3 separate regions of the Homo sapiens genome follow, and regions 2 and 3 are each linked to region 1. Evidence: fine-mapped expression QTL. A gene starts in region 1. Each other region holds a variant in brackets. All regions are shown on one strand. Distances are from middle to middle. Region 1 holds the start of USP34-DT (USP34 divergent transcript). Region 2 overlaps USP34 (ubiquitin specific peptidase 34). Region 3 overlaps USP34 (ubiquitin specific peptidase 34).

Region 1 (8,181 bases):
CTGTCATCCAGGCTGGAGTGCAGTGGCAACTGCAGCTCACTGCAACCTCTGCCTCCCGGGTTCAAGGGATTCTCCTGCCTCAGCCTTCTGAGTGGCTGGGATTACAGGTGCCCTCCACCACAACCGGCTTTTTTTTTTTTTTGAGACGGAGTCTTGCTCTGTCGCCGAGGCTGGAGTGCACTGGTGCGATCTTGGCTCACTGCAACTTCTGCCTCCTGGGTTCAAGCAATTCTCTTGCCTCAGCCTCCCAAGTAGTTGGGACTATAGGCATGCGCCATCAAACCCGGCTAATTTTTGTATTTTTAGTAGAGACGAGGCTTCACTACGTTGGCCAGGCTGGTCTTGAACTCCTGACCTTGTGTTCTGCCCACCTCCCCCTCCCAAAGTGCTGGGAGTACAGGCGTGAGCCATTGCGCCCAGCCTAATTTTTGTATTTTTAGTAGAGATGGGTTTCATTACGTTGGCCAGGCCGGTCTCTAACTCCTGTCCTCAAGTGATCTGCCCTCCTTAGCCTCTCAAAGTTCTGGGAATACAGGTGTAGGCCACCATGCCCAGCCAAGAAAAATACATTTTATTTTTCTCACATAAGCAGTCTGAGCATAGACTGTTGTTCAAAGATGCATCAGGGATCCACACTTTATGATTCTGTTTTATCATTTTTTTTCGAGATGGAATTTTTTTTGCTCTTGTTGCCCAGGCTGGAGTGCAATGGCAGAATCTCGGCTCACTGCAACCTCCACCCCCGGGTTCAAGCAATTCTCCAGCCTCAGCCTCCCGAGTAGCTGGGATTACAAAGTGCCCGCCACCACACCCGGCTCATTTTTTATATTTTTAGAAGAGATGGGGTTTCAGCATGTAGGTAAGGCTGGTCTTGAACTCTGACCTCAGGTGATCCACCTGCCTCAGCCTCCCAAAGTGTTGGGATTACAGGCGTGAGCCACTGTGCCCGGCCTGTTTAATCAAATTTTTTAAACAATGAAATCGCAAATGGGGTAAAAGTTTTCATTGTTAAAAAAATTACAAGATGGGTATTACTTTGTGCATCAAGACCATGTTTCAGGCAGAAAGGGTTAAATGGTATGTTAGCTGAATTTGTCCCTCATCGTATTAGGAATTCTTTTGGGAATTCTTCCCAAAGAACCCATCCTGCAGATTTCTGCTTACATTTCTTTTTTTTTCCAGAGAGGGTCTCACTCTGTCACCCAGGCTAGACTGCAGTGGTATGACCACAGCTCACTGCAGTCTCAATCTCCTGGGCTCTAGTGATCCTCCCACCTCAGCCTCCCCAGTAGCTGGGATTACAGGTGTGCACCACCACATTCCACTAATTTTCTTATGTACTGGAGATGGACTTTTGCCATGTTGCCCAGGTTGATGTAGAACTCCCAGGCTCAAGCAATCCATCTGCCTTGGACTCTCAAAGTACTATGATTATAGTCGTGAGCCACCACGACCAGGTAATTTTTTTTTTTTTTTTTTGAGACGGAGTCTTGCTGTGTCGCCCAGGCTGGAGTGCAGTGGCGCGATCTCAGCTCACTGCAAGCTTTGCTCCCTGGGTTCATGCCATTCTCCTGCCTCAGCCTCCCAAGTAGCTGGGACTACAGGCGCCCACCACCATGCCTGGCTAATTTTTTGTATTTTTAGTAGAGACGGGGTTTCACCGTGTTAGCCAGGATGGTCTCAATCTCCTGATTTAGTGATCTTCTCGCCTCGGCCTCCCAAAGCGCTGGGATTACAGGCATGAACCACCATGCCTGGCCTTTTTTTTTTTTTTTTTTTATGAGACGGAGTTTCACTCTTATCCCAGGCTGGAGTGCAATGGCGCGATCTCGGCTCACCGCAACCCCTGCCTCCCGGGTTCAAGCGATTCTCCTGCCTCAGCCTCCTGAGTAGCTGGGATTACAGGCATGCACCACCATGCCTAATTTTGTATTTTTAGCAGAGATGAGCTTTGTCCATGTTGGTCAGGCCGGTCTAGAGCTCCCGACCTCAGGTGATTTGCTCACCTCAGCCTCCCTAAGTGCGGGATTTCAGGAGTGAGCCAACGCGCCCAGCCACCTTTTAAATTTTTGTAGACACAGGGCTCCCACTATGTTTCTCAGGATTGTTGCTTACCTTTTATCAGGAGGAACTCAATTATGTATGGCCAGCCCTAGAAAAGCCAGATCACCATGATGGTTGGTTTCAACTGCTACCTGAAAAAACGTGAGACCAGCACGTTGGCTCATACCTGTAATCCTAACATTTTGGGCCGGAGGATCAGTTGAGGCCAGGAGTTTGAGACCAGCCTGGGTAACATAGCAAGACCCTGTCCCTACTAAAAATAAAAAACAATTAGTTACGTGTGGTGGAGAGCGCCTGTAGCCCCAGCTACTAGGGAAGTGGGAGGATCCCTTGAGCCCATAAAGTGGAGGCTGTAGTGAACTGTGATCGCACCACTGCACTCTAACCTTGGCGACAGAGTGAGACTTTGTCTCAAAAAAAAAAAATTCAAATAAAAATAATTGGGGTTGTGTTGGCAGGGAAAAAAGGGATACGTGGGAATGTATGTTGAGTGGACAACGAATGTCTGCCTCAGGATCCAAAGTAAGTCTGCAAAAACCCAATTCTGTGAGAAAGACAAGGAAGAAGGGAAGATGATGGTAGAATAGAACTACAATCCTAAGGATCACCTGCTAGTGGGAAACAAAACGGGTTGGGCAGACTGTTTATAGTATCAACTTCAAGCAGCAGAAAGGCAAAGCATTTGGAACCAGGTGGTTCTGGCATGGAGAGATGGGCGTGCCATAACCTCCACAAAAGCTATCGAGAGAATGACTACAGAGCCTTGACAGACACTCTGGTTACCGTTCAGAGATTCTGTACACGATCTTTCGGACTTTGCAGTCACATGTCTATGTAAACACGTTGAACACAAAAATTAGCAAGCAAGGGGTAAGTGCCGGCGTGAGGAAAATTCCCTTACAAGCTTCAGCTGACTGCCCCCTTCACCTGTTCTTTATCTTAATATCCTTGTTATTCGCTCTCTGCTGAAGAAGATTTCTTGCTATTTCAGGTGGGGCTGATGGGCACATCGTGAGGGGCCCTCTTCCGTAAAAACGAGACGATGTCAGGCAAACACTCCTTACCCTGCCATTTCTAGTTACGTCAAGGATCTTACTGCTCCAGGACGGAGGACCTTCAAGGAACTGCAGGGTAGCGATAATCACCGATGCAGTTAAGCCGGGCCCTGGGCTGATTCACTCTCAGACCCCGGGGGGAGTGGCCCTTGCGCCCGAAAGAGGGCTACGGCGTAGACCCGGCCCGGCACCCAAGTTGACTCCTTGCTTCCCGTACCCCAAAAGCCTAAGCGCGGAAGAGGCCGGGGACACCAAAGAAACCCGCACCAACTCCCCGACCCAGGCCCTGGGGAAAAATGGCGAAGCCCAGGGGCGGGGGACAGGACGGAGCGAGTGACCTGGCGCTCCCCGGGCCTCAGAGCCCGTGGAGTGGGTCGTGGTGGGCGACGCCACGCAACCGCGACCCGTCCGTTGCCTCCGCCATCTTCTCCTACTCACCCGGACTCCCCCCGCGGCCGCGCTGGCTTCGCGTTTCCCTTCCGGCCGCTGACAGAGATCCGGGCTGGGCGGGGTGGGCGAGCGCGCGGAGGGGGTGGACCGAGGGCGGGGAGGCCGGACGGAAGAGGAAAGGGAGGGCGGCGAGCCGGCCACGGCGGGGTGTGGAGCGTGCGGCGTGTGTGCGGAGGGAGAGGTGGGGGGCGGAGGAGAGGCGAGAAAGGGAGGGAGGCGGAGGAATGAGAGCGCGAGGCGCCTCTCGTCCGCTCCTAAGCCCGGGCGGAAAGAGCCGAGCGCAGCCCGAGCGCTCTGTTAAAATGGCGGCGGCGTCGGCGGTGGCCGCGGCGTCTGGTCGGTGAAGTGACTCTGCTGCTTCTCTCCCCACCCGCCCCCTCCCCCCCTCTCCCCTCCCCCCGTCCTTCCCCCCCTTCCCCGCCGCCGGCGCCTCGGCGCCCCTCCGGCCTGCGCACCTCCCCTCGCTCCCCTCCTCTCCCCCTCCCGCTGCGGGGACCGCCGGCCCCCTCCCCCATTCTCTTGCTCCCCGCCCCGTCCCCGCCGCCGCCCGCCCTAGTCGCCTCCCCGCCCCGCCGGCCGGCCGGCCCCCTCCTCCGCCTCTCTCCCCTCCCCCCCGCCGGTCGGGATCAGTCAGTGTGATCCGAAGCGGGGGAGGGGGGGGGCGGCGGCCGAACGATGTGCGAGAACTGCGCAGACCTGGTGGAGGTGTTAAATGAAAGTAAGTAGCCGCGGTAGCGGCCTGTCGGGGTGCACGGTTTGGGGTCCTCGCGCAGCTCTCTGGCCTCCCCGGGCTGCCGCGGCCTGCGGGAGGCGACGGCCGGGCCGGGCGGCGTGCGGGCCTAGCGCCCCGGGAAGGTGCGCGGTGGCGCGGCCGCCGCGGCGCCTCGGGCCCAGCCCGGCCGGGTTACCTGGGCGCCCGAGAGGCGGCCGCCGCGGAGCTCCGGCTCGGCCTGGCCCGGGCGCTCTGGGCTCTCGGAAAGTTTCCTCATTACAGGTGTCAATTAATGAAGGCAGTAATGAACCCCTCGCCGCCTTCGCCTCCTTCGCCCTGCCGGGAAGGTGCGGGGAGGTGGGGTCGGAGGACGAGGCTTTCCTCCGCAGTCCAAATCCTCCGGCCGCCCTCTTTGATTTCCAGCGTGCTGCCGAGGCCTCTCTTACCTGCTAATTTTCATTAAACTCCCGGGAGCAGGGTGGTGGTTTTTCCCTCCCTTGCGGGTTTGTGGGTGTCTTAAACACTTCAGCCAGACCTTAAATAGCTGAAAACGAACTGTGATAGTGATGATTGGAACCTTCATACCTATTTTTAAAATAAATTTGTTAATGATGTTTCTTAGTGTAGCATTCACCGCTTTAATGGTACATTCTGTTAAGCAGAGCACTGTACTACACATACCATCCCGGGATAGTTATGGCCTATCTCTCTTGGAAGGAAAGGCCTTTTACCTGGTACTTTACTTTTTATTATTAAAAAGGGTACGTTGATCTTTTCTGGCCTTTTTATTTTATTCTCGACCCTTGCAAGATGGTATTTCAGCTTATAGAAGATATATTGCAAATCAACTACTTCTGGGCGTAAAGGCCTAGTTGGCAGAGGTGAATTAGATGAAGGGATCAATTTACAAAAAGTTGATTGTTGAAAAAATGCTCACTTATGAACAGTTTATGTGGGTTTTGGATTTGTATTCTGTTTGTGATATTTCCACAGACTTTCAGACTATCTAATTTTGTAATACAATTCGCTAAAACAGTTGATTTATAAAATGTACCATGGTATTTGTGTTTGACTGTCACTTTAATGACCAAAGACAATAATAAAAGTGGAAGGGTTCTAACTTAATTTCAACTCCGTATTTACTTCCTGATAGGTGGAATAGGCTTTTGCACATATTCCAACTAGAGGTTCCAGTATTTGTGTCACCCTAAATTATCCTAGAATTTTAAGATTATTTGTGTGTATTTTGAGATACTTTTATTTCTGGCGCAGGCGGTTTACGATATGATAAACTTAAATCCTCAATACTTACTGTGTTTTATATCTCACATACAAGTCGTGTGATTATGATTGTTACGCTCAACTTGGAAAGTTAATCGTTTTGCAATGTAATATGAGGAACAAGTACTTAATTTTGTTGGTGATTTTAAATATCTTTTTTTTTTCTTGAGACAGAGTTTTGCTCTTGTTGCCCAAGCTGGAGGGCAATGGCATGATCTCGGCTCACTGCAAACTCTGCCTCCCAGGTTCAAGCGATTCTCCTGCCTCAGCCTCCCAAGTAGCTGGAAATGTAGGTTCCCCACACCATGCCCGGCTGATTTTTGTATTTTTGGTAGAGACGGGGTTTCACCATGTTGGTCAGGCTGGTCTTGAGCTCCTGACCTTGTGATCCGCCTGCCTCGGCCTCCCAAAGTGCTGGGATTACAGGCGTGAGCCACTGCGCCTGGCTGATTTTAAAATATCTTAAACTTGGAAAATTTTAAACAAAACATCTAAAGAAAGTAAAGTTGGTTTATCTTTTGAAAAGAGGTGGCATCTTGATCATAATGAAAGGTCTTATTTAAGATTATCTGGGAAACCCCTAGAACTTTGGTTAGAAGCACTGAAAAATGCAGTGCATTTATGGAGTGTTAGAAATGTGGAGAATTGAAATAGAATTTAGCTTTTATTACCTTTAAGCAAATACAGTTAGTTCAACCAGCTTCTCAAAATCTGGTCATGTGCACCCTCTAAGAAACCTGTTCTAATGAACAAGTAAGGATTTTCTATTTGTGTGTAAGCCAGTGGACTCTAAAAATACTTAGTTTCTTAATATTGCCTTTGAGGCTCAATTTAAAAGTTTAACTCTTAAACAATAATCTCACAGTGATGCTTCCTTTTTAAAAAAATTTACGGCCAGGCGCAGTGGCTCACGCCTGTAATCCCAACACTTTGCGAGGCCAAGGTTGGCGGATCACCTGAGGTTGGGAGTTCAAGACCAGCCTGACTAACATGGAGAAACCCCGTCTCTACTCAAAATACAAAATTAGCTGAGCGTGGTGGCACATGCTTGTAATCCCAGCTACTGGGGAGGCTGACCAGGAGAATTGCTTGAACCCGGAGGCGGAGGTTGCAGTGAGCCGAGATTGTGCCATTGCACTCCAGCCTGGGCAACAAGAGCGAAACTTTGTCTCAAAAAACATTTTTTTTACTTCAACAATTACATGTGTAGTTTATACCACACTATTAAAAGTTGTTTTTTTTTCTGTAGTTCTTTGCTTATCCGTGGCTATGATGGAGCATGATAATGAACATGAGTGGTTGGAGCTTGATAAAACTTGTTGAAGTAGATTATATGTGTTTCTTGTGATCTCATTTGCAGTAATTACCTATAAAGTCTGCCCTTTTCCCGCCTGTACCTTGTACAAAGATGAGCATCAGTTCAACGTTGATTTAGAAATTCAGAGTTGGCCGGGCAACTCTGAATACAGCTCACGCCTGTATTCCCAACACTTTGGGAGGCCGAGGTGGGCGGATCACAAGGTCAGGAGCTCGAGACCAGCCTGGCCAATATGGTGAAACCCCATCTCTACTAAAAATTCACCAATTAGCCGGGTGTGGTGGTGTAGGCATCTGTAGTCCCAGCTACTTGGGAGGCTGAGGCAGGAGAATTGCTTGAACCCTGGTAGGCGGAGGTTGCAGTGAGCCGAGATCATGCCACTGCACTCCAGCCTCGGCCACAGAACAAGACTCCATCTCAAAAAAAAAAAAAAAAAAAACAAAGTTACAGTCCTCCCAAAATGTGCTCAGAATTCATCTTTAAATACGACACCCTGTAACAGTTTAGCCAGCTGAGAGAAGCAATAAAATTGTGCATATTTTTGGGTGGTGTGTTTCCAGGTCATGCTGAAAAATACGTAATTAGTATTAAAGCAACCTCACAAAACAGTCAGACGTGGTGGTGCGCCCCTGTAATCCCGCCTCGGCAGGAGGCTGAGGCAGGAGGATTGTTTGAGGCCAGGAGTTCGAGACCAGCGTGGGCAACATAGTAAGACTGCTTTTTTTATTATTATTATTTTTTTATTTTTTATTTGGAGACAGAATCTCGCTGTGTCACCCAGGCTGGAGTGCAGTGGCACGGTTTCGGCTCACTACAACCTCTGCCTCCCTGGGTTCAGCAATTCTCCTGCCTCAGCCTCCCAAGTGGCTGGGATTACAGGCACACGTCACCATGCCCAGCTAATTTTTGTATTTTTAGTAGAAACGGGGTTTCACCATATTGGCCAGGCTGGTCTGAACTCCTTACCGTGTGATCTACCCGCTTCCGTCTCCCAAAATGCTAGGATTACAGGCGTGAGCCACCGCGCCTGGCCAAGACTGCTGTCTTGAAAAAACAAACCAAAAACACTGTTTCTTGTGAAATTAACAAACAGTGATCACACTTAGAGAAGGCTACCTGGGCAAACGAGTGTAATAAATTTTTTTTTTTTTTTTTGACACGGAGTCTAACTCTCACCCAGGCTGGAATGCAGTGTCGGCTAGCTGCAACCTCCACCTCCCGGATTCAAGTGATTCTTCTGCCTCAGCCTCCTGAGTAACTGAGACTACAGGCACCCGCCTCCTTGCCTGGCTAATTTTTGT
Region 2 (8,181 bases), 87 kb after region 1:
GAGCGCATTGGGGTGATCTCAATTCGTTGCAACCTCCACTTCCTGGGCTCAGGCGATCTTCCCACCTCAGCCTCTTGCATAGCTGGTGTGTGCCACCATGCCCCGCTAAGCAGATGTGGGGTTTTGCCATATTGTCCTGGCTGATCTCAAACTCCTGAGCTCAAGCATCCTCCATCCTTGGCCTTCCAAAGTCCTGGGATTACAGGCATGAGCCACTCCACCTGGCCTTTTTTTTATATTTATATATATATATGTGTGTGTGTGTGTGTGTGTGTGTGTGTGTATAAATATATTTTTACATATGCTTATATATAAAAATATATTTTTACATATGCGTATACGTAAAAATATATATTTTTACATGTGTGTATACGTAAAAATATATTTTTACATGTGTGTATACGTAAAATATATTTTTACATGTGTGTATACGTAAAAATATATTTTACATGTGTGTATACGTAAAAATATATTTTTACATGTGTGTATACGTAAAAATATATTTTTACATGTGTGTATATGTAAAAATATATTTTTACATGTGTGCATATGTAAAATATATATTTTTATATATGTGTGTATATGTAAAAATATATATTTTATATATGTGTGTATATATAAATATATATATTTTATATATGTGTGTATATATAAATATATATATTTTATATATGTGTGTATATATAAATATATATACATACATACATATATATACACTCACACACACACTTTTGTTGTTGTTTTTTTGAGATAGAGTCTTGCTCTGTTGCCCAGGATGTAGTGCAGTGGTGCGATCTTGGCTCACTGCAGTCTCCACCTCCTGGGTTCAAGCGATTCTCCTGCCTCAGCTTTCCAAGTAGCTGGGATTGCAGGAACCTACTACCAAGCCTGGCTAAATTTTTTGTACTTTTAGTAGAGATGGGATTTCACTATGTTTGGCCAGCTTGGTCTCGAACTCCTGACCTCAAAGTGATCTGACTGCCTCAGCCTCCCAAAGTGCTTTGATTACAGGGGTGAGCCACTGCACCTGGCCTGTTATATATTTCTAACGACTAATGAGAATCAGCACCTTTTCATAGGCATATTACTTATTTGGATTTTTTTTGCGAAGTACCTGTTTAAATCTCTCGCCCATTTGCAAAATTGGATTGTCTTTTTCTTGCTGATGTTTAGAATTTCCTTGTGTGTTTTAGATAGACGTCTTTTTAGGTAGAAGTGTTTTGTTTGATATATGTATTGCCAATATCTTCCACTCTCGTGTTGCTTTTCACTGTTGTGTTGAAGAAATATTATTCATCAAGCTTCATGTTGTACAGTTTGTCATTTTTCTTTATGGTTAAGGTTTTCATTTTTGGTTGAAAAAGTCATTTTTAACTCTAAGGCCATGAAGATACTTACAAAGTTTTTTTTGTTTGTTTCTTTTTAGATGGAGTCTCGCTCTGTTGCCAGGCTGGAGTGCAGTGGCTTGATCTCAGCTCACTGCAACATCCACCTCCTGGGTTCAAGCGATTCTCCTGCCTCAGTCTCCTAAGTAGCCGAGACTGCAGGCACTTGCCACCACGCCCAGCTAATTTTTTGTATTTTTAGTATAGATGGGGTTTCACCATGTTGGCCAGGATGGTCTCGATCTCCTGAGCTTGTGATCCATCTGCCTCGGCTCCCCAAAGTGCTGGGATTACAGGTGTGAGCCACCGTGCCCGGCCAAAGTTGTTGTTTTTTTTGAAAAATTTTTTCTTGCTTACCTTGATCAGGAAACAAGTATTATTGCTTTACCTTTCATATTTTGATCTATTCAACTGCAATACATTTTTATTTATAGTTTCAGGAGGGATTAAGATTCATTTTCTTTTTCATACAGATATCCAGTGTTCCTAACACTGTCACAAAGACAGTCATTTCTTCTTTGTTCTGTAGTTCTACTTTTGTTGCACAGGTTAGTGTTGAACTCCTGGCCTGAAGTGGCCTGAAGTGATCCTTCCATCTTGGCCTCCAAAAGTATTGGTTACAGGTGACTCATGCCTCATCACTACAATGAGCCAAATCGGATGTTTTTATGTGCATGGGTTTGGGCTCTTTGGCATAGTATACCATTCTATTTGCCTAATTTTGTGCTGTTTTGCCTACTGACTTAATTACTGAAGCTTTACAAGAAGTCTTGCTCTCTGGGAAAGCAAGTACTACCTCCCTGTCATATTTCTTTTTTTTTTTTTTTTTGGAGACAGAGTCTCACTTTGTCACCTAGGCTGGAGTGCAGTGGGACGATCTCAGCTTACTGCAACCTCCACCTCCTGGGGTTCAAGTGATTCTCCTGTCTCAGCATCCCAAGTAGCTGGGATTACAGGTGCGCGTCACCACACCTGGCTCATTTGTTTTTGTGTTTTCAGTAGAAACAGTTTCACCATGTTGGCCAAGCTGGTCTTGAACTCCTGACCTCAGGTGATCTGCCCACCTCGGCCTCCTGAAGTGCTAGGATTACAGGCCTGAGTCACTGCACCCAGCTTCTCCTTGTCGTATTTCTTTTTTTTTTTTTTTTTTTTTTTGAGACAGAGTCTTGCTTTGTTGCCCAGGCTGGAGTGCAGTGGCATGATCTTGGCTCACTGCAAGCTCCGCCTCCCAGGTTCACGCCATTCTCCTGCCTCAGCCTCCCAAGTAGCTGGGACTACAGGCGCCCGCCACCACGTCCGGCTAAGTTTTTTGTATTTTTAGTAGAGATGGGGTTTCACCATGTTAGCCAGGATGGTCTCGATCTCCTGACCTCGTGATCCGCCCGCCTCGGCCTCCCAAAGTGAGATGTGAGCCACCGCGCCTGGCCTCCTTGTCGTATTTCTTAGAGAGTTTTAGCTATTCTTGGACCTTTGTGCTTTGAATGAGTTTCATAAGTTCTGCATGTAAACCTTTTTGGATTGTACTGAATCTATAGATGAATTTCGGGAGAACTATTATCTTCACAATAAATATGGCAAATGTCTCCTTATTTACATGTTGTTTAATTGATTATTTTCCAACTTTTTATGTAGAGGTGTGTATCTTGTTAGATTACTCCTAGACACATGATATTTTTGATACTGTTCTTAAGGGAATCGTTTTGAAAACTGTATTATTTGTTCTCAGGAACAAATAATAAGAAAAGAACATATATAGGGTGTTGTGTGTATGTATAGATAGGTGTGTGCATATTTGTTTATATTAACCTAGCAGCAGTTTTGCTAAACTCTTTAGTTTCAGTGTTTATCTGATAATTATTTTGGGTTTCCTAATTATATAATTATATTATCTCAGAGTATTATTTTAAATTCTTCTTTCTAGTCCTTTGCCTTTTATTTAGTTTCTTAACTTATATTGTCTAGGTCCTTCAGTTCAAGTGGAATTGAGGCTTCCTTGTCTTGTTCCTAGTCTCAGGAGGCAAAGTTTTTAACATTTCATCATTAACGTAGTATTTACTACAGGGTTTTTATAGACGTCTTTTATTTGATTATAGTGAATCCCTACATTCTGAATTCCCAAATTCATGTATTTTATTTTTTAATTTTTTTTGTTTTGAGACATGGTCTTGCTGTGTTGTCCAGGGTGGAGTACAGTGACGCGATCCTGGCTCACTGAGACTTCCACCTCCTGGGTTCAAGCGAATCTCCCACCTCAACCTCCCAGAGTGCTGGGACTGCAGACATGTGACACCATGCCTGGCTTATTTTTGTATTTTTTTGGTAGAGATGGGGTTTCAGCCATGTTGCCCAGGCTGGTCTTGAACTCCTGAC[C/T]TCAAGTGATCCACCTGCCACGATCTCCCAGAGTGCTGGGATTATAGGCATGAGCCACCGCGCCTGTCCAGATTTTTTAATTTGTATCTCCTGCCTGTGTCAAGACTCAGTATCAGAGTTTTTTGTTTGATTGGTTGGGTTAGGATTTTTATTCTTACTATTTTTGAAAATAAAACTGTTATATAATGTATTCACATTTGATTTATAAATGTTAAAATATTGTGTAGAAAAAATGAGGAAATATATTTATTGTAACTTTTATTATAACTCAGTCGAGCTGTAAGTTACTTATAGTAAACTTAGTAAGTACTTGTTGATATTGTAATCAGTGTGTGACTGTAAAATATATTTGCTTCAGATACTGAAATGACTAGAAATTATGGGTAATTTGAAATATTTTAGGAAGGAATGATGAGATGATTAGTTAAAAACTAATACGGTTTATTAAAAAACTAATACAGTGCCTTGTATTGGGGATGCTACCGTACAAAGAGGTATAGAGAATTATTTGGTAAGGAAATATTACTTTGAGAGATGGTTTTGTCTTTTCAGCAAGAAGCTAAGATTAATTTTTCAGACAGACTTCATGTAAAATAAGATATATAATATATAGGTTAAATTTCCTGATACATGTGTAATTCTGTTTTGTACTATACTCTTTTCATAATTGATAATATATGTAATTATAGAGGCAGCAGAATACTAAATGATCCTCGTTTTTGTTTTGTTTTTTATTTGAGACGGAGTCTCGCTCCGTTGCCCAGGCTGGAGTGCAGTGGCACAATCTCGGCTCACCACATCCTCTTCCCCCCGCCCCCCCCGGGGGTGGGGGTTCAAGCGATTCTCCTGCCTCAGCCTCTCAAGTAGCTGGGACTACAGGTGCGCGCCACCATGCCCGGCTAATTTTTGTGTTTTTAGTAGATACGGGGTTTTACTGTGTTGGCCAGGCTGATCTCAAACTCCTGACCTTCGGATCTGCCCACCTCAGCCTCCCAAAGTGCTGGGATTACAGGCGTGAGCGACCGTGCCTGGCCAATGCTCTTGTTTTTCATTAGTTTAGTGAAAGATATATGTATTTCACATATTAGGCATTAATGTTGTTTTTATGTTTCTTATATAGATTAGAATATGGCTACATATTCCCGCTGTCATGCAGCACATTATACCTTTTAGGACCTATGTTATTAGGTAAGTTTATAAAATTTCTTTACCCCCGATTATCAGTGTAATATATTTAAACAATTTATAATATAGAATTATATTGTTTGAAAGTCCCCTATAGTCATATCCTCTAGAGAAAATTTCAAGTAACAGTTTGGTATATAGTGTTTTTTATGCACATATATGGATTTATATTTAATGGTTACTTTTTAGTAAATTATGTTGGACTTTTTTTTACATGAGTATGTAAAGAATTAAAGAGATTAATAATGGTTATTCCACTGTATTTAGTCAGCAAATACACAGTAAGTGTCTGTTACGTTCTAGGCACTGAGGATATAGCAGAGAAGAAAACAAATTGCAAAAATCTCTGCTCTTGTGCAGTCTGTTTACAAAAGAAGTAAATGATAATACTACATCAGAAAGTGATAAGTATTATAGGATAAATAGCAGCAAAGGTGGCTTGAGAGTTCTAGGGGGTGGGTTACAGTTTATGGGGACAGGAAAGGTCTCATTGAACGAGAGGTGACATTTGAATTTTATAAGTCTCAACTTAAAAAGGAAGCCTAAGAAGATGGAGAAAGGGTTGTACTGATTAGAATTAAAGTATGAACTGTCAGGATTCTGCATATTTTATTTCTTGATAACATTTATGACAGTATTGTACTTTTTTTCTCATTTGCAAAGGTTTGAGTGTTCCCTTTTTCACAGCACTACTCAACTTTTGGGAGACAGTATCAGGCAAAGAATCAGATAGTGATGAATGCTATGCAAGTAAGTTAGTGTGATACAGAGGGAGTATGGGGCCTTTCTGAAGGGTGATATCTGATGGACGTGAGTCAGCTATTCAAATGATTATTAGAAAGACGTATTGTAGAAGGAACATGTCAGTATAGGCTTTGAAGTTGGCATATGACACAAACTAGAAGCAGATTGGTGTGGAGAATAATGTGTAAGGGGATATAGTTTTGAAGGTGGAGAGATAAGCAGGGGCAGATTATTCAGGACCTTGTAGGCCACTGTAAGGAGTATGGATTTAATTTTTTCAATGGGAGTCTATTGAAGGGTTTTTAGCAGATGTTTCATGATTTTTTAAAAGTTTTATTTGGCTTTTAAATAGATCATAAATATAGGGTGACTGGAATAGAAGCTAGGAGGAGACCAATTGAAAGGTTTATATATTAGTCCTGGAAGGAAAGTGATGATTACTTACAGTAGGATTGTTAATGATGATTTTGAAAATTGGATGAATGTAAGTGAAAATAAAATCAATAATACTGGTCATTATAGGGTATAAAGAAAAGGGTAGCATTGTGGATGTGGATGACATTCAGCACCCCCCCTCCTCAATTTTTTTTATTTGTACTGTGGATATCATTACTGAGATGTGAAAATCTGGGAGAACTTAAAGACAAGACTTTGAGAGGCCTGTGGGACTTAAATGGCACTGGCAAATTGGGAGTATGAACTTGTAGTTCAGAACAGTTTTCATTAATGTAAGAGTTGTGAGTGTAAAGATGGTATTTAAAAACCATAGGAGTCACCTGAGGAGAGCATACAGGAAAAGAGTAGAGGTGAGTCTAAGATAGAGCTCTGTATGGGTTGGTTTTGCTGTGTAAGAAAACATCCCTCAAAACTTAGTGGCTTACAACAATAGCCAGCCAGGCATGGTGGCTCATGCCTGTAATCCCAGCACTTTTGGGAGGCCGAGGCGGGAGGATCACCTGAGCCCAGGAGTTCAAGACCAGTCTGGGCAACATAGCGAGACTCCATCTCTGTGCAGAAGAAAATTAGGTGGTCGTGGTGGCATGCTTCTATAGTCCCAGCTACCAGGGAAGCTGAGGTGGAAGGATCACTTGAGCCCAGGAGGTCGAGGCTGCAGTGAGCTCTGATTGAGCAATTGCACTCCAGCGTGAGTGACAAAGCAAGACTTTGTTTTATAAAAAAAGAAAAAATGAAACAACAGCCATTTATCATTTCTCACAGTTCTCTGGTTAGCTAGGTAGTTTTGTGTGTGTGTGTGTGTGTGTTTTATTTTTTTTTAGTTTTACATTTTTTGTTTATTTTTTATTTATTTATTTTTTTTTTTTTTATTGATCATTCTTGGGTGTTTCTTGCAGAGGGGGATTTGGCAGGGTCATAGGACAATAGTGGAGGGAAGGTCAGCAGATAAACAAGTGAACAAAGGTCTCTGGTTTTCCTAGGCAGAGGATCCTGCAGCCTTCCGCAGTGTTTGTGTCCCTGGGTACTTGAGATTAGGGAGTGGTGATGACTCTTAACGAGCATGCTAGCTAGGTAGTTTTGTTGATCTGTATTGACTTGGCTGAAACTGGATGGTCTAGGTTAGCCTTGTTCCCACATTCTGTGATTGCCATGCCGATTGGTCTTGTGGGGTGAGCGGGAATCTCATATATGTCTTGTAGTTGGCTTCATGTCAGTTGGAGCATCAGGCACTTCTCTTTCATCCAGCAGGCTAACCTTGGTTCCTTGTTTTGTTGGTGATTAGAGTTCCCAGCAAGAGAAGGCAAGCTCAAAGGCTTTTCTAGCTTCCACTTATGTCATGTCTATTAATATCTCATTGGCCAAAGCAAGTTACATGGCAAGGCCCAGATTTAAGGTGTAGAAATAGATTACACCTTTTGATGAGAGGAATAGCAAAGTCACATTGCAAATTCTTGTACATATAATGATGGGAGGAATTTGTGGCCATTTTGTAATCCATTACAGGCCTTGAGGAAGACTAATGTTGAAAGGTTGGACAGCAGAGAAGGAATCTGCCAAAGAGATTAGGCAGGGCCTGAGAGGAAAACCAGAGGTTTGTGGGTTTTGGACACAAAAAATGTTAATGCTTACAATGTACATTTTAAGTTACTGAGTGGTCTTTAAAAATGCTTTATGAATTTTTGTGTATTTTCTATTTCTGAATCATTTCAGGTATTTATGCAAGCTCTCGGATCAGGAGTTACGACAGAGTGCAGCTCGTAACATGGCTGACTTAATGTGGAGCACAGTCAAAGAACCATTGGATACAACATTATGCTTTGATAAAGAAAGCCTAGATCTTGCATTTAAGTACTTTATGTCACCTACTTTGACTATGAGGTTGGCTGGATTGAGTCAGATAACAGTAAGCTGTATTTGTTTTATTTTTGGTCATCGTTTATTTGTTTTCTGGTCTATCATAATACTACCCACTATTTATGGAGCACTTCATACTAGGCATTGTGCTAAGTATTTTATGTGGATTACTTTATATGGTCTTCAC
Region 3 (8,181 bases), 68 kb after region 1:
GCTGGGATTACAGGTGCCCACCACCATACCCAGCTATTTTTTTTTTTGCATTTTTAGTAGAGACAGGGTTTCACCATGTTGGTCAGGCTGGTTTCGAACTCCTGACCTCAAATGATCCACCTGCCTCAGCCTCCCAACGTGCTGGGATTACAGGCGTGAGCCACTGCGCCTGGCCAATATTTTTTTTTTTTTTTTAAATACACATATATTTTTTTTTACAGGAGCTTGGGGGGGAGAGAGAGAGAGAAAGAGAGAGTGTGTGTGTGTTGTTCCTAAACACTTTTGATTTGCCAGATAGCGTCAGAGCACCCCTCCCAAGTAGCCTTCAAGGACATTAATCTAAAAATGTGGCTGTTTTATTAGTTGACAACAAAATTCCTTATATTAAATAACCAGCTGGCTTTACTAATAAGATATTTTGTTATAAGTTTCCTAATAACTTGCTAAACATATATTGAGTACTTGACACTGGAGAAACAAAATGTCACAATTCTTGTTTTTAAATAGTTCCATGTGTAGAAGGACAGACAAATCCATACGTAAAACTGAAGATAATAGCTGTAAACCTAACATGATGACTTTACACTAACTAAAATATCAGTTGTTGTTGCGATGCTATCTTTATGTTATTAAGGTGTACCCCAGCAGGAAGGAAAAAATAAAAACAAGTCTAGAAATAACTTAGTATTTGCTTACTTGTTTTTTTATATTATTAAAAAATACAGCTGCTGCTTTATTACTAATTTATTCAATTTTTTTTCTCTTATAGGCAATGTCTATGCTGCTTCAAGGAATATAAGCATTTGGAGATTTTTAATCAAGTAGTGTGTGCACTTATTAACTTAGTGATTGCCCAAGTTCAAGTGCTCCGGGACCAGCTTTGTAAACATTGTACTACCATTAACATAGATTCCACGTGGCAAGATGAGAGTAATCAAGCAGAAGAACCACTGAATATAGATAGAGAGTGTAATGAAGGAAGTACAGAAAGACAAAAATCAATAGAAAAAAAATCAAACTCTACAAGAATTTGTAATCTGACTGAGGAGGAATCTTCAAAGAGTTCTGATCCTTTTAGTTTATGGAGTACAGATGAGAAGGAAAAACTCTTACTATGTGTGGCAAAAATTTTTCAAATTCAGTTTCCCTTATATACTGCTTACAAGCATAATACTCACCCTACTATTGAGGTATGTAAAATAGGTGGTGTGAATTTTAAGTAATACCAAGTCTTAACTTCGCAGTCTGTTTCTTACTGATAAATATGAAGACAGTTTTCTGCTGGCGGAAAATCATTATTGTCACCAGAATTATTTAATGTTTCTCCAGAGCATTTCTTCAGCAGTTTGTGCTGAAAATTTGCTCGGCATAGTTCATCCTATCAAGGAAAGATCTATACATTGAACTCAGAAATTAATCTGGTAGTGATCTAAACATTTTACTGCTATAGATCTATGCTTATTTTATGACTCTTAATAAATAATAGTTGAGGGAAAAGAAACACATGGAATTTTAAATTTCATTCTTAGAAACAGTCTACAGATCAGAATTTGCTTTTATCAAGAAAAAAAAGCTTAGCAAATTATCTGTGATTAGTAGTTTCAAATAATAGTATTTCCTTTTCTTTCTTTCTTTCTTTCTTTTTTTTTTTTTTTTTTTTTTTTTGAGATGGAGTCTCTCTCTGTTGCCCAGGCTGGAATGCAGTGGTGTGATCTCGGTTCACTGCAAGCTCCGCCTCCTGGGTTCATGCCATTCTCTTGCCTCAGCCTCCCAAGTAGTTGGGATTACAGGTGCCTGCCACCACACCTGGCTAAGTTTAAAAAGAATTTTCTTTAGTAGAGACGGGGTTTCACCGTGTTAGCCAGGATGGTCTCGATCTCCTGACCTCATGATCTGCCCACCTCGGCCTCCCAAAGTGCTGGGATTACAGACGTGAGCCACCACCCCTGGCTAAGTAATAGTATTTTCTTTTGTAAGTTAAGATGCTTGACTCTATTAGTGATGTTTTTGCAAGCATTTCTAAGTATGTAGTAACCTATCTTAGACTTAACTCAGATAATATGATTGATTTCTAGGCATAGTGGGAATTGAGACAATTATGTGGTAATATATTAATGACTTAACAGTGGTTTATTATTCCTCATGATTCTCACAGGCAGTTCCTTAGCTAGTTTTGTGTAGGCTGAGTTATGCAGGTGAATTTACTTTGAGAACTGGATGGGTAAGGTCTGGGTCGCACTTGTGTGTGTGGCAGTTGGTAGTGGCTGTTATCTGGGGCTCCTTGTATTTTCTCCACATGGCTTATTTTCCACTAGGGTAGATTGGCTTCCTTAAATAGTAGTCTTAGCAGTGCTCCAGGAAGGCAAAAGTAGGAGCTGTAAGACTTCTTATGATACAGCCTTTGAAATGTCACAGTATAATTCTGCCATATTCTATTGTGCTGCTTTCTGTTACTTGAAGCGGTTCACAAGGGCAGCCCAGATTCAAAGGGGTAGTGAAGTAGACTCCATTGCTGGGGGGAGGAGAGGTAAAATTTCATTTTATATCTTATACATTGTTTCCTGTGCATCCTGGAATATGAAGAATTATGGCCATTAGAGAATCTATGACATTTTTTTTGTTTGTTTTTTATCTGTCTCTTTTCTCTAGCTTATTTGTTCTGTAACCTTTATACCTCTCTTTCTTCATCTGGGAAATAATAGTCCTTTACTGGGATATTTTCATGTCGAATGGAGACTTATTTGAAAACATAGCTTGAGGGCAGATATTTTCCCTGTTAGAATTCTTCGTAAGAATATTTTAAATCAGGCACACAAGTCACCTACTTGGCCCTCTTCCAAGTTGTACTTTCTGTCCTTCTTTCCTTACTGTTCTAAAGCTTTTTTTTTTTTTTTTTTTTTTTTTTGAGATAGAGTCTTGATCTGTCGCCCAGGCTGGAGTGCAGTGGTGTGATCTCGGCTCACTGCAAGCTCCGCCTCCCGGGTTCACGTCATTCTCCTGCCTCAGCCTCCTGAGTAGCTGGGAGTACAGGTGCCCGCCACCATGCCCGGCTAATTTTTTTCTTTGTATTTTTTAGTAGAGATGGGGCTTCACCCTGTTAGCCAGGATGGTCTCGATCTCCTGGCCTTGTGATCCGCCCGCTTCTGCCTCCCAAAGTGCTGGGATTACAGGCGTGAGCCGCTGCGCCCAGCCTCTAAAGCTTTTTGATAAACTTTCACTCACTCCTGCTCTGGGTGGGGGAGAAAGAGTGTTTAAAAGCAGATTGTGCTCTGTTTTCTAAAAATCTTAGCCTGTGATCTTCCAGTATAGAAACTTAAATAATCTCTTACATGATATAAAATATATTAAATATTCTGAAAAAGTAATCTTTTTTCAACAAAAGAAAGTCCCATCAGGCAAACTTGAAATATTTAATCTACATAAACACCATCTACATAGTGCTTTAATATCTTAACTTGGTAACTGAAAGATGCTGAAAATAGTTTCGTTAGGGACTTAGATATGTGAAATTCACAGAAATTTTTTCCAATTAAAAATTTCTTAATGATATAGAACTATATAAGTAATACTGAGTCTGCTGCTTCTAAAATAAACTTGCTCATCAGTGTTTTTTCTTTCCTGTTTTCAAAAATGGTAATCTCTAAATGTAGGCATAGTTACACTCCTGTACTTTGTTTTAAAGTACTTTGTTATTATTATTCGTGAGTATTTTATGTTACTACTTGGTTGAAAGCAGTGGTTTTTTGAGGTCTTCGAGGAAAATTCTGACAAAAAATACCCATAGAGATAATAAAGGAGTTACCTCCTTATACCAAATTCTATTAATATATTAGATATGTGCCTCTTTAATTTTCTTTTCGTAATAGTTGTTTCCGAGGTTTCTATTATCTTAATAATGATCTGTTACAAGTGCTCTAAAATTTCTAGTTTCTATCCCAGTGGCCATTTAATTAAATGCGGTAAGGGTCAACTGTTTCAAATGGTCTTAGATCAAAGACTTGGTAGCATACATGTTATAAAATTATATATATGTATAAATTTTGTATGTATATACACACAATTATTTTAAAGCAAACAAATTATTATGAAATGTAATACAGCTTACTAGAGA[T/C]TTTTATCCCACTTTTCTTTGAGGAAATTGTCCATCTAGTCTTTTCTTTGTGCTGCTGTGCTATCCTTTCTTAAGCCTTTGATTTTGATTTTTCGTTAATATTTTTTAAAGAGGCACAACTTAGCCAAAATTCTTAGGAGGACAAGATTCAAAACTCATGTGTTAGTATTTTGATAGCTGTGTCTTTAGAAACCTACTCAACACTTTTATTTTATAGAAGAAGCAACTGGCCTACAGAGGTTAAAAGATTTGATTGGGCATATTGCTGAGAAGAGTCCTAGAATCCGGGTCTTACTCTACTGCACTACTTCTAAATCATTTTGAACTAATTACTGTATTCTAAATAATATGGGAACTTGGAGCCACTCCTTCTGTCTCCCTTCCTTCTTCTCTTTCCTATTGTCCCCATCAAAGCTGATATTTTAAAAGGTTCGGTAATTGGACATAAGTAGTACTAATTCAGGATCAAAAGGGGGAATGGCCTAGTTTTAATTTTTTTCCCCTTAAGAGACAGGGTCTTGCTCTGTCTCCCAGGCTGGAGTGCGGTGGTGTGATCATTGGTCACCATAACCTTGAATTCCTGGGCTCAAACGATCCACCCACCTCAGCCTCCTGAGTAGCTTGGACACTAGGCATTCACTACAGTGCCTGGCTAAGTTTATTTTTATTTTATTATTACTTTTTTAAGAGATGGGGTTTATCTGTGTTTATGGGGTTTATCGAGACCAGCCTGGTCTCGAACTCATGGCCTCAGGTGATCCTCCTGCCTTGACCTCCAAAGTGCTGGGATTACAGGCATGAGCCATAGTGCCTTGCCATGCTAGTTGCATTTTTTATCCTGAATAATTATGTGTAATTCTGTGAAATCAGATAATTGCTCTAGTGTTGTAAGTTTTTTTCTAAGTATAGGGAAAAAGATTATAAAAATGGGCCGGGCGCGGTGGCTCATGCCTGTAATCCCAGCACTTTTGGAGGCTGAGGCAGGTGGATCACAAGGTCAGGATATCGAGACCATCCTGGCTAACACGGTAAAACGCTGTCTCTACTAAAAATACAAAAAAAAAAAAAAAATTAGCAGGGCGTGGTAGCGGGTGCCTGTAGTCCCAGCTACTCTGGAGGCTGAGGAAGGAGAATGGCATGAACCCAGGAGGCGGAGCTTGCAGTGAGCTGAGATCGTGCCACTGCACTCCACCCTAGGTGACAGAGTGAGACTCTGTCTCAAAAAAAAAAAAAAAAAAAAAAAAAATAGGGCCAGGTACAGTGGCTCACACCTGTAATCCCAGCATTTTTGGAAGCCAAGACAAGAGGACCACTTGAGGCCAGGAGTTTAAGTCTAGGCTGGGCAACATAGCAAGAGCTCATCTTTACAAAAGAAAAAAAAATTAACTGGGCGTAGTGGTGCACGCCTGTAGTCCCAGCTACTTGGGAGGCTGAGGCAGAAGGATCACTTGAGCCAGGAGGTCAAAGCTGCAGTGAGTTATGATCATGCCTCTGCATGACAGAGTGGGACCCTATCTTTAAAAAAGTAGAAAGGAGAGAAACCACTGCATTTATGTTAAATATACGTATGGTATAATCAGACAGATGAAATATATACATGAAGGTTTTATTTTTTAATTTTTTTTTTTTTTTTTTTTGAGACAGAGTCTTGCTTGGTCACCAGGCTAGAGTGCAATGGCGCGATCTCGGCTCACTGCAACCTCTGCCTCCTGGGTTCAGGCGATTCTCCTGCCTTAGCCTCCCAAGTAGCTGGGACTACAGGCGCGCACCCAAAATGCCCAGCTAATTTTTGTATTTTTAGTAGAGACAGGGTTTCACCATGTTGGCCAGGATGGTCTCAATCACTTGATCTTGTGACCTGCCTGTCTCGGCCTCCCAAAATGCTGGGATTACAGGCGTAAGCTACCGCACCTGGACTTATTTTTTAATTTTTGAATCAGGGTCTTCCTCTGTCACTCAGGCTGGAGTAGTACACTGGCACAATTATGATTCATTGTAGCCTTGAACTCCTGGACTCAAGTAACCCTTCACCTTCAGTGTCCTAAGTAGCTGGGAGTACAGGTGCATGCCACCATGCCTAGCTAGTTTTTCAATTTTTTTGAGGAGGCAGGGTCTTGCTCTGTTTCCTGGGCTGGCTTTGAGCTCCTGGCTTTGGGCAATCTTCCTGCCTCAGCCTCCCAAAGTACTGGGATTATAAGATGAGCTGCCACGCCCAGTCAATTTAGTATTTTTTAGAATAATACCAACGTTGTACAATTATCACTACTAATTCCAACATCACTGAGTTACTTTTAAGCAAAAATTTTGAGACATTGAGTTCTTCATGGTTTGATCATGGAGCAGCATTTTCTTAATTTACATAGAATTGCCTTTCCTCTGGCCGGGCGCGGTGGCTCACACCTGTAATCCCAGCACTTTGGGAGGCCGAGGCGGGTGGATCACAAGGTCAGGAGATCAAGACCATCTTGGCTAACACAGTGAAACCCTGTCTCTACTAAAAATAGAAAAAATTAGCCAAGCGTGGTGGCGGGTGCCTGTAGTCCCAGCTACTGGGGAGGCTGAGGCGGGAGAATGGCGTGAACCCGGGAGGCGGAGCTTGTAATGAGCCGGGATGGTGCCGCTGCACTCCAGCCTGGGCAACAGAATGCGACTCCATCTCCAAAAAAAAAAAAAAAATTGCCTTTCCTGTATAGTTACTCATTTATTTCTCTCTGTTTTCTCTTTTAAAATAACCAAATTTCTCTGCTATAAATAGGATGGGATCAACTCATGTAGTAAATGGGAGGTTTTTGAGGAAAAAAAATGCAAGACTTTAAAAATCATTGATAAGTTTATTAAAGCCTTTCTCAGCGATTACCTAAAATAAGAACTTTTGAAAAATACTGTTAATACAGCTTTTTTTTTTTTTTTTTGGGAGACAGTGTCTCGCACTGTTGCCGAGGCTGGAGTGCAGTGGTGTTATCTCGGCTCACTGCAACCTCTGCCTCTCAGGTTCAAGCGATTCACCGGCCTCAGCGTCCCGAGTAGTTGGGATTACAGGCGCCCGCCACCACGCCTGGCTAATTTTTTTGTGTTTTTAGTAGAGACGAGGTTTCACTGTGTTGGACAGGGTGATCTCCAACTCTTGGCCTCGTGATCCGTCTGCCTCAGCCTCCCAAAGTGCTGGGAATTACAGGCATGAGCCACCGCGCCCGGGACCGTTAATTCGTCTTTTAATGAGACTTCCTAGTGTTGTTCTTAGTGTTTTTTTTAACCTATAGATGTGTGTTAATTTTTTATATACTACTTAAAAAATGAGATTATAACATTTTAGGATGCTAGCTTTATGTATTCATATTGGAAATAGAGTGGCAAAACAGTTCCCCTGAATCACCAAAATAGATGTAATCAAATCTGAGTAACACTGCATACCAGGATAGAACTCAATTTTTTTTTTTTTTTTTGAGACGGAGTTTTGATCCTGTTGCCCAGGCTGGAGTGCGGTGGCATGATAACAGCTCACTGCAACCTTCGCCTTCCGGGATTCAAGCAATTCTCAGGAGGCTGAAACCTCCTGAGTAGCTGGGATTACAGGCATGCGTCACGACACCCAGCTAATTTTTGTAGTTTTAGTAGAGACCATGTTAGGCTGGTCTTGAACTCCTGACCTCGTGATCCACCTACCTAGGCCTCTCAAAGTGTTGGGATTACAGGCATGAGCCACTGCACCGGCCGTTAGGAGATTTTTTAGCTGTGCCCATGTTAGGCACTAGAAATCGTGGCTCTAAGATTCTAGCATGGTTCACCTGGTCCATGATTCTGTATTTAACAATACCACAGGAGGTCTTAAATTCTGGACTTTTTGAAGACCATGAAAAAGTTCGTTGAGATTAACATAAAGCTTCACCTCTGGCCCCGGTTGTCATAGCCAGGAGTGGATTTAGGAGGTTTAACACTTACTTTGAGACTTCATTTCTCTAAGGACATTTTTTGTTTATTTTGAAATGTTCTGAGTTCTGTATGATTGCTTTCAATCCATGATTTTCAGACTTTATTTCAGCAGTGTAACTTAAATATCTAAAATAGGTGAT

Evidence for each region. PIP is the estimated chance that this variant, and not a neighbour inherited with it, causes the effect.
Region 2: its variant is fine-mapped to the expression of USP34-DT in whole blood (TOPMed, PIP above 0.99). The same link has a PIP of 0.9 or more in lung.
Region 3: its variant is fine-mapped to the expression of USP34-DT in whole blood (INTERVAL, PIP above 0.99).

What each region holds. Positions count from the first base shown.
Region 1 is chr2:61,466,756-61,474,936 of GRCh38, reverse strand. USP34-DT (USP34 divergent transcript) reads right to left here and starts at 3,841. Exons shown (of 3, transcript NR_185882.1): 1 at 3,558-3,841. It overlaps USP34 (ubiquitin specific peptidase 34), which reads left to right and starts at 3,850. Exons shown (of 80, transcript NM_014709.4): 1 at 3,850-4,287. The coding sequence starts at 4,245. RefSeq lists silencers at 3,599-3,908, 3,939-4,018, 4,109-4,528 and an enhancer at 7,572-8,071.
Region 2 is chr2:61,380,031-61,388,211 of GRCh38, reverse strand. It overlaps USP34 (ubiquitin specific peptidase 34), which reads left to right. Exons shown (of 80, transcript NM_014709.4): 6 at 4,876-4,943; 7 at 7,851-8,043. Among named protein-coding and RNA genes, the nearest start is that of SNORA70B, 33 kb to the left of the region's middle. RefSeq lists a silencer at 7,172-7,372 and an enhancer at 6,964-7,465. The variant C/T (reference allele first, on the strand shown) is at 3,756.
Region 3 is chr2:61,398,717-61,406,897 of GRCh38, reverse strand. USP34 (ubiquitin specific peptidase 34) reads left to right here. Exons shown (of 80, transcript NM_014709.4): 3 at 770-1,190. Among named protein-coding and RNA genes, the nearest start is that of SNORA70B, 15 kb to the left of the region's middle. The variant T/C (reference allele first, on the strand shown) is at 4,112.